Linked DNA regions of Homo sapiens. The protein of the gene in region 1 purifies or fractionates together with the protein of each later gene. This does not show direct contact. Each region holds a gene or a part of one and is shown on either strand. Other genes may lie near its edges.

The links. The genes of interacting proteins can lie anywhere in the genome.
Region 2: the proteins of TMPRSS11E (region 1) and SYT6 purify together in Homo sapiens (affinity purification with mass spectrometry; one large-scale study listed by BioGRID and IntAct). This does not show direct contact.

What each region holds. Positions count from the first base shown.
Region 1 is NC_000004.12:68,495,284-68,498,104, reverse strand, and holds the end of TMPRSS11E (transmembrane protease serine 11E precursor), read right to left. Parts: intron 1,463-2,821; coding exon 1,301-1,462; 3' UTR 501-1,300; downstream 1-500.
Region 2 is NC_000001.11:114,098,370-114,101,869, reverse strand, and holds part of SYT6 (synaptotagmin-6), read left to right. Parts: intron 1-2,604; coding exon 2,605-2,776; intron 2,777-3,500.

The DNA of each region.
Region 1 (2,821 bases):
TTTACTCTTCAGTTTTGTTATCCAGGCAGTTAGCCATTCAGTGTCACACTAGATGCAGCAGTGAGGCAGCTTCCAGGATATTTTCTCTATGGTATCTTTCCATCTCAGCGAAGAGGAGTCTAACAGGACCATTAACCATGTATGAACTGTAAACACAGCAGCAGGGGAAGAAAAATATCTACAATCATCTCAAAATAGAGGTCTGAGCCCCAGTTCAGTTGCATGACTAGACTGTACACTAACACCTGGATCTCATTCCCTTCAAGGATTTGCTGTTTGGGAAAGTCTTAGATGAATAAAACCTTTCCAGTCAATTGTTTGAACTCTTCGTTCCCTCCCATTCCACAACACAATTATTTTAGTACATAAGCATGCTGATTGTTATTAAATTAATTTTCATCCTAGCCTCAAATTTTAAAAAAATTTACAATAAATTGACTAGTAACATTTTTCCCATCTTCCCCTTCTTTGTGGATTATCATATCATAATGTCAAGCAAATGGGTGATTTATATTTTATTGTTATATGTTGACATCCTCAGTAACAATGTTAAATAAATATTTGCTTTAATTTGCTTAGAACAAGTACATTGCATGAAGTTTGTATAATTATTATAGGTCACAAAAAAACAGAATCTTCTTCACATTTATCATAGTAGTTGTTTGGAAATGAAAATAAGGATATATCTTGGCTTCTTTCTGGATTTCCTTAACTTAGTTCCCATACTTCCTAAATGATGAAGTGATTGGTATTCTGCTGTCTTTGCTTGACCTTTCATAATGAATATGATCATTTCTAATATTCCACTAAGAAAAACACCTAATACTTTTCTGTGCCAATAAAATGTAGGGGATTTTTTTCTTCTTATATTTTCTTTCACTCCTTGTTCTGCACCTTGAAAATGGATATTTGCTGAAATGAGAGGAGCTGAGGAACTGAAGAAAAGGAGTGCTTCAAATTGTATATATGCATTACAAATTTATGTCAACAAGTCAAAATTCTGACAAAACTTCTAGAGAACAAATGAATACAGGCTGTAATGTAATATTGTATTATCTATTTCTCTATGTACATAAAGTTTCAACTATTGCTCACAGATGACAGAGTTGATCTGGCAGAAGCAGGATGCTTATGTGCGGAACAGAGCTGGGAAGAAAATACATGCATCAAGCAAACAGTTTATTGAGATCAGTCAAATCTAGCTGTTTTGCAAGTCTTCTCCAATTCTGTATCTCTAAAAATGGCCTCCACACCCAAAAAACAAAAAAAAATGTTATCTGTTCCATGAGGCTTTTCTCTCTTAGATACCAGTTTTTGAAGTAATCCAGTCCCGCAAGGCCGTAACTCTAGTATAAACACCAGGCTTGTTGGGTTTCGCACATTCATCTCCCCAGCTCACTATTCCAGCAAGGTACCAGATATCTCTAGCATCTGAACTAACCAGTGGTCCTCCAGAGTCACCCTAAAGGAGAAGACAGAAATTAGTAATTCATAATTCAGTTCATTACAGAGGAATTGGCTATTTTTCTAACTTAAGAATGTAATGAAAGGGGTAATTTTCAAAAGTATTCCGTGTGTTCGCATGCATAAGTGATTTTCTCCATCTATGTCAGTTATCCACCTAAAAGAGGACCTCCAATACCTTGAAAACTGATGAGATTGAAACCTTGAAACCTTGAAATACCTTGAAACCTTCAAAACAATGAGATTGAAGCCTCCATCTCTTTGAAGAACTGTACTCTTAACTTATGTGACACATCTGACAAAATAACTCCCTAATTATTTTGTCTATACTCTTTATTAGTGTAACATAACCCCCCAAAAAAGGGAGTGAAGAGTCTATTACTGATTTTAAAAAAACAAACAAACAAAAAAAAACAGACATTAGAGTCAGACACCAGGGTTTCTATCTCAAGTTTGGCCTTTCCATGCTGGCTAAGACCTTTAATTTATTTATCTGTAAATGCTCCTAATAATACCTACCTGTGATGAGTGCTATGAAGATGATGTAAGACAGTGAATGTAAAGTGCTTAGTCTAGCAAAAGGCAGAACTTAGGAAATGCATATATAAAATCACAAATTCTCATTATTTATATCCTGCAAACTCCAGAGTTTTGATTCTTTATATGGCTTGTAATAATGAGGTACTGGCTGATTATTCCTCAAGATCCTGGCGCTTCTAATTATTGACCACCCATTAAGTATTCATACTCACTCTATGAAGTTCTTAATTGATTAAAATATTATCTCATTAATTCATGTAATTCTTGTTTACAAAAAACATAGAACTAGGTTAATTTTTTCTGGGTTACTAAGAAAACTGAAACTCAGAAACATTAAGTAATTTGCCTGAGATCACGTGCTAATCAGTGGCAGACCCCGAATTTGAATCCAGAGCGATCTAATTCAGAAGCCCATGCTTTTTTCCCTACGTTATGCTAACTTCCTTGTGAATTTTCTTTTGTCCATTTAAAAAATTAACTAATATAATAGTAAATTTGAAATAATACATTTGTGATTTTAAATCAACTAACCAATAAGCATTTACTGATACCCTCGTATGTAGGAGGAGATATAAAAAGAGTATTATAAACACATGGATCTTGTCCTCTAGAAACCTGCAATCTGCTTATAGAAATAAGATATGCCATATGAAGCTATTCAAAAATAAATAATTTTGATAATAAAATCCCAAGTCTATATGCAGGCAGAGAAAATCAGGATAGAGAAATAGAAGATACAAGAGAAAACAAAGCTTTAATCAGCATAAGAGACAGGAATAAATGAGTCCGAGAATAAATAATTATTTTAAAGAGATAG
Region 2 (3,500 bases), on another chromosome or scaffold:
GTATCTGGAACAGTGGATAAAACACAGTAAGCATTCAATAAATAGATACCGAATGAATGGATGGTTGAATTTACAGCATGAGGAACCTGGCCCAAGGGTGAAGCAGTGGGGGTGTACTTGCTAGGAGCCTCTCGAACTAGATCTCCTGTTCTTGAGGATGAGTTTGAGGTTTCCCTCAGCCCAGACTTATTCGATGTTGGACTAAGCTAGGTATTGAATGGAGCTTATTAATTGCCTATTCTTGAATTGTGTGGCATTGATGTCTAAAACCCAGGATCTTCCTATTCTCAATGATCTAAACTAGCCCTGAATCAATTCTCTAAGCCTATCTGCTAGAACCATGACACTAAAAATAGCACAAAATAATAATAAGGACCAGTATGCTACAAAGGGGTGGTGAGCACATTCTAAATGCTGGATTTTGATTGCTCCCATGACAATGAGGCTGAAATACACTGCTGGTCTTTGTGTCCCCTCCCTCAGCTGCGTAGAGCATCATAGGCTGTTAGAGAGGAAAGGACCTCCAAGATCATCTGGGGCCAGCATTCCACTAGAAACCGCAGACTTTTGCCCCAGAAAAGCCTAGGGAACGGTCATCTGTCTGCTTGGCTTCATGGATGCTGGTGAAAGTGTTGGTTCCTGCAAGGGAAATATGTGCACTGAATTTTATAAATTTCATATCAGCCAGGCACAGTAGCTCATGCCTGTAATCCCAGCTACTCGGGAGGGTGAGGTGGAAGAATCACTTGAGCCCAGAAGTTCAAGACCAGACTGGGCAAAACAGCAAGACCTTGTCTCTTAAAAAAAAATGGATATGCCTTGTAAGGATGAACAGAGTTGGGGAAGGTTGCTAAGACATTTGCTCAGTGGCCCATGGGACAAGTGGCTCTGCCTCTATTTTTCCAAGCCTCATGATATGGAAATCTGCCCTGATGTGGGAGTGTATGGAAATAGGTAGAGCAGGGGAATGAGGCGGCACCTGAGCAACCTCAAGTCTGGAGCCACTTTGCAAGAAAAGGTACATCCTTATGGATTTTGCAAGCTGCTGTGTTAAAGACAGGTATTGGGGCTAGCTCTGCCCATCTGTCTACCTGAACCTGAATAATGTCCTGGGGCATATCCATAGAGAATGGAATCTGTGGAAACCAGAGCCTCATGCCGGTTCTCAAAACTCTTACTTCCATTTTACTGAAAATCCCTAAGAGAGGGTCCTTTCAAATGTGTAGTTTGAGACAGCAGGTTGATTAAACACCTCATGGTCTCTCCATAAACCCAACCTCATCTCCCCATGGTTAAGGCATAGCTACTGCTGCCACATGGATTAGTCGGCAGCTCATTTAGGTGTCTACAAAAATGCCTTTCAGGCTTGGAGTTTCTGATCAGGTGTCACAGTTCTCCCTAATTTCCACCAGGGATGTGTGCCTCATCTGCCATCTGAATGATGCCAGGGAGTACAGGGCCCTAGTGGGTGCTCGATGTCCAGGAGATAGAACCATATGCCTATGAATCACAGAGCTGGGGAGCAGCTGCTTGGCTGGCACCTCCTGACAGATTCACAGGAGCCCTGGCTTCTGGGCAACAAGGTGTCTCAGCACATCAGCGTCTCGAAAGCTATTATTACCTGTGAGCCGCCCTCCCATTTCTTGAGCTGTGCAGCATAAATAACAATTATGATGGTGACCGAGACACCTGTGCTATGAGATACACTAGGTTTCACTTCACTTGGGTGAGTAGAAAATTTCAGGGTAGAAAGATGACCATGAAATACCCATTCAGAAAACTAAAGAAAACAAAAGGATGGGAGGCACATGGAAGTTCAATAAAAGCATCTCTTTGCAGGATGGAGAGAATCCAAGATCCCACTGAGAAAGGAAATGTCAACCAGCTGCCCTGAGTCTCCCCGGGCCACAGCTCCCTCATTCTCCACTGTCCAGAAGTGGGCAGGAAATGGCTTCCAGGGAAGCAGAGAGCAGGGCCACTTCACGCCTTCTAGATGCCAAATGGAAATGGGATTATTGAGACAATGGGACCCAAAATTATGTTGTCAGGTGGGGAGGACATGAACAGCATTGTGATTGTTGCTGTTCATTTCACTCTGACACATTGTGTCTCCCTGGCCATTGTTGAGTCCTATTTTTACCCCGCCCCAAAACCTTTATCCTTTGGTTTGTAATTCTGGTAAAACAAAAAAGCCACTCAAAGAATAGTACTCCACATAGGTAAAAGAAATAGTGTCATTGTTCAGCCTCATCACCTTTTTGAGTCAGCCAGGGATTGACGAGCTGAGATTTAGGGCTGTGAACTGCATACCTATCGGCAGGTGTCATGTCTGATATGGGGCCAGCTTCCCCATTAGTAAAAGTCCATTAGGCGCTCTCCCAAGAATACTGAGGTAGCTAAAGACTCTGCATTTATTAAGCACAGAGTGTCCTCAGAGACAGGTGTGCTACATAAATACAAGGTGGTTTAATTATTTTAACAACCCACTGATACCATCTGATGAGCAGCAGTAGGTCTAGGGCTTCGGTCCCTTTGCTGCAAATGATGTTTGCAGACATCTGTTTAACATACTCCATTCCCTTTTCTCTGTCCCCATTGGCACAGATCCCTATGTGAAAGTGTCCTTGCTCTGTGATGGGCGGAGGCTGAAGAAGAAGAAAACAACCATAAAGAAAAACACTCTCAATCCTGTCTACAATGAGGCCATCATCTTTGACATTCCCCCGGAAAACATGGATCAAGTCAGCCTGCTCATCTCAGTCATGGACTATGATCGGTAGGTAGGCGTCCTAGAGGGACGTAATTCTACCCCTCACTCCCACTCCAGCACCAGCACAGGGCTCCTTGACCTTAGACCTTGTGATTCAGGGCTCAGCTTTAGGGTTCAGGCCTCAAATCTATCTGTACCCAAGAAGGGTGCAGGAGTTTGAGGAAGAGCATAGATTCTCCCTTAGCAAAGGTTCAAAGTTCTTTTCCCAACTGGCCTATCTCCGTCAGGGGCAGCTCTGTCCATCAGTTTCCCTGAATTCACCCCTTGCTATTCCCATTCTTCCATCTGGCACCAAGTCCTATTATCTGGCCTTTGAAATGCCCCTCTATCCTCTCTATTTCTGCTGTTGCTACTACTGTCACCCTGGGATGGCTGTGCAGCCTCCTAGCTGACCCCTGCCTCCATCAATTCCTGCCACAATTCGGTCAACATACTAAGGACACATCTTCCTAAATGACAGCTTTCTTCCTGGACCTGCCCTTCTCAAGAACCATCAATGGCTCCTGTGATCCAGGCTTTTCCCTTGGACTCTGATGGCCTTCCCTAATCTGGACCCAGCATATCCATCCAATCGGATCTCCCCTTCCTCAGATATTTTTCGTCTCTTCCACTCATCCTGCTCTTCCATCTAGGCTGGCTCAAAAACATTTTTCAACTACTCTGGTCCCCATAACTTCTTCTCTCCACTTGTCACTTTAGCTAAAGGAGAAAGAAACCATGCAATAAAGCC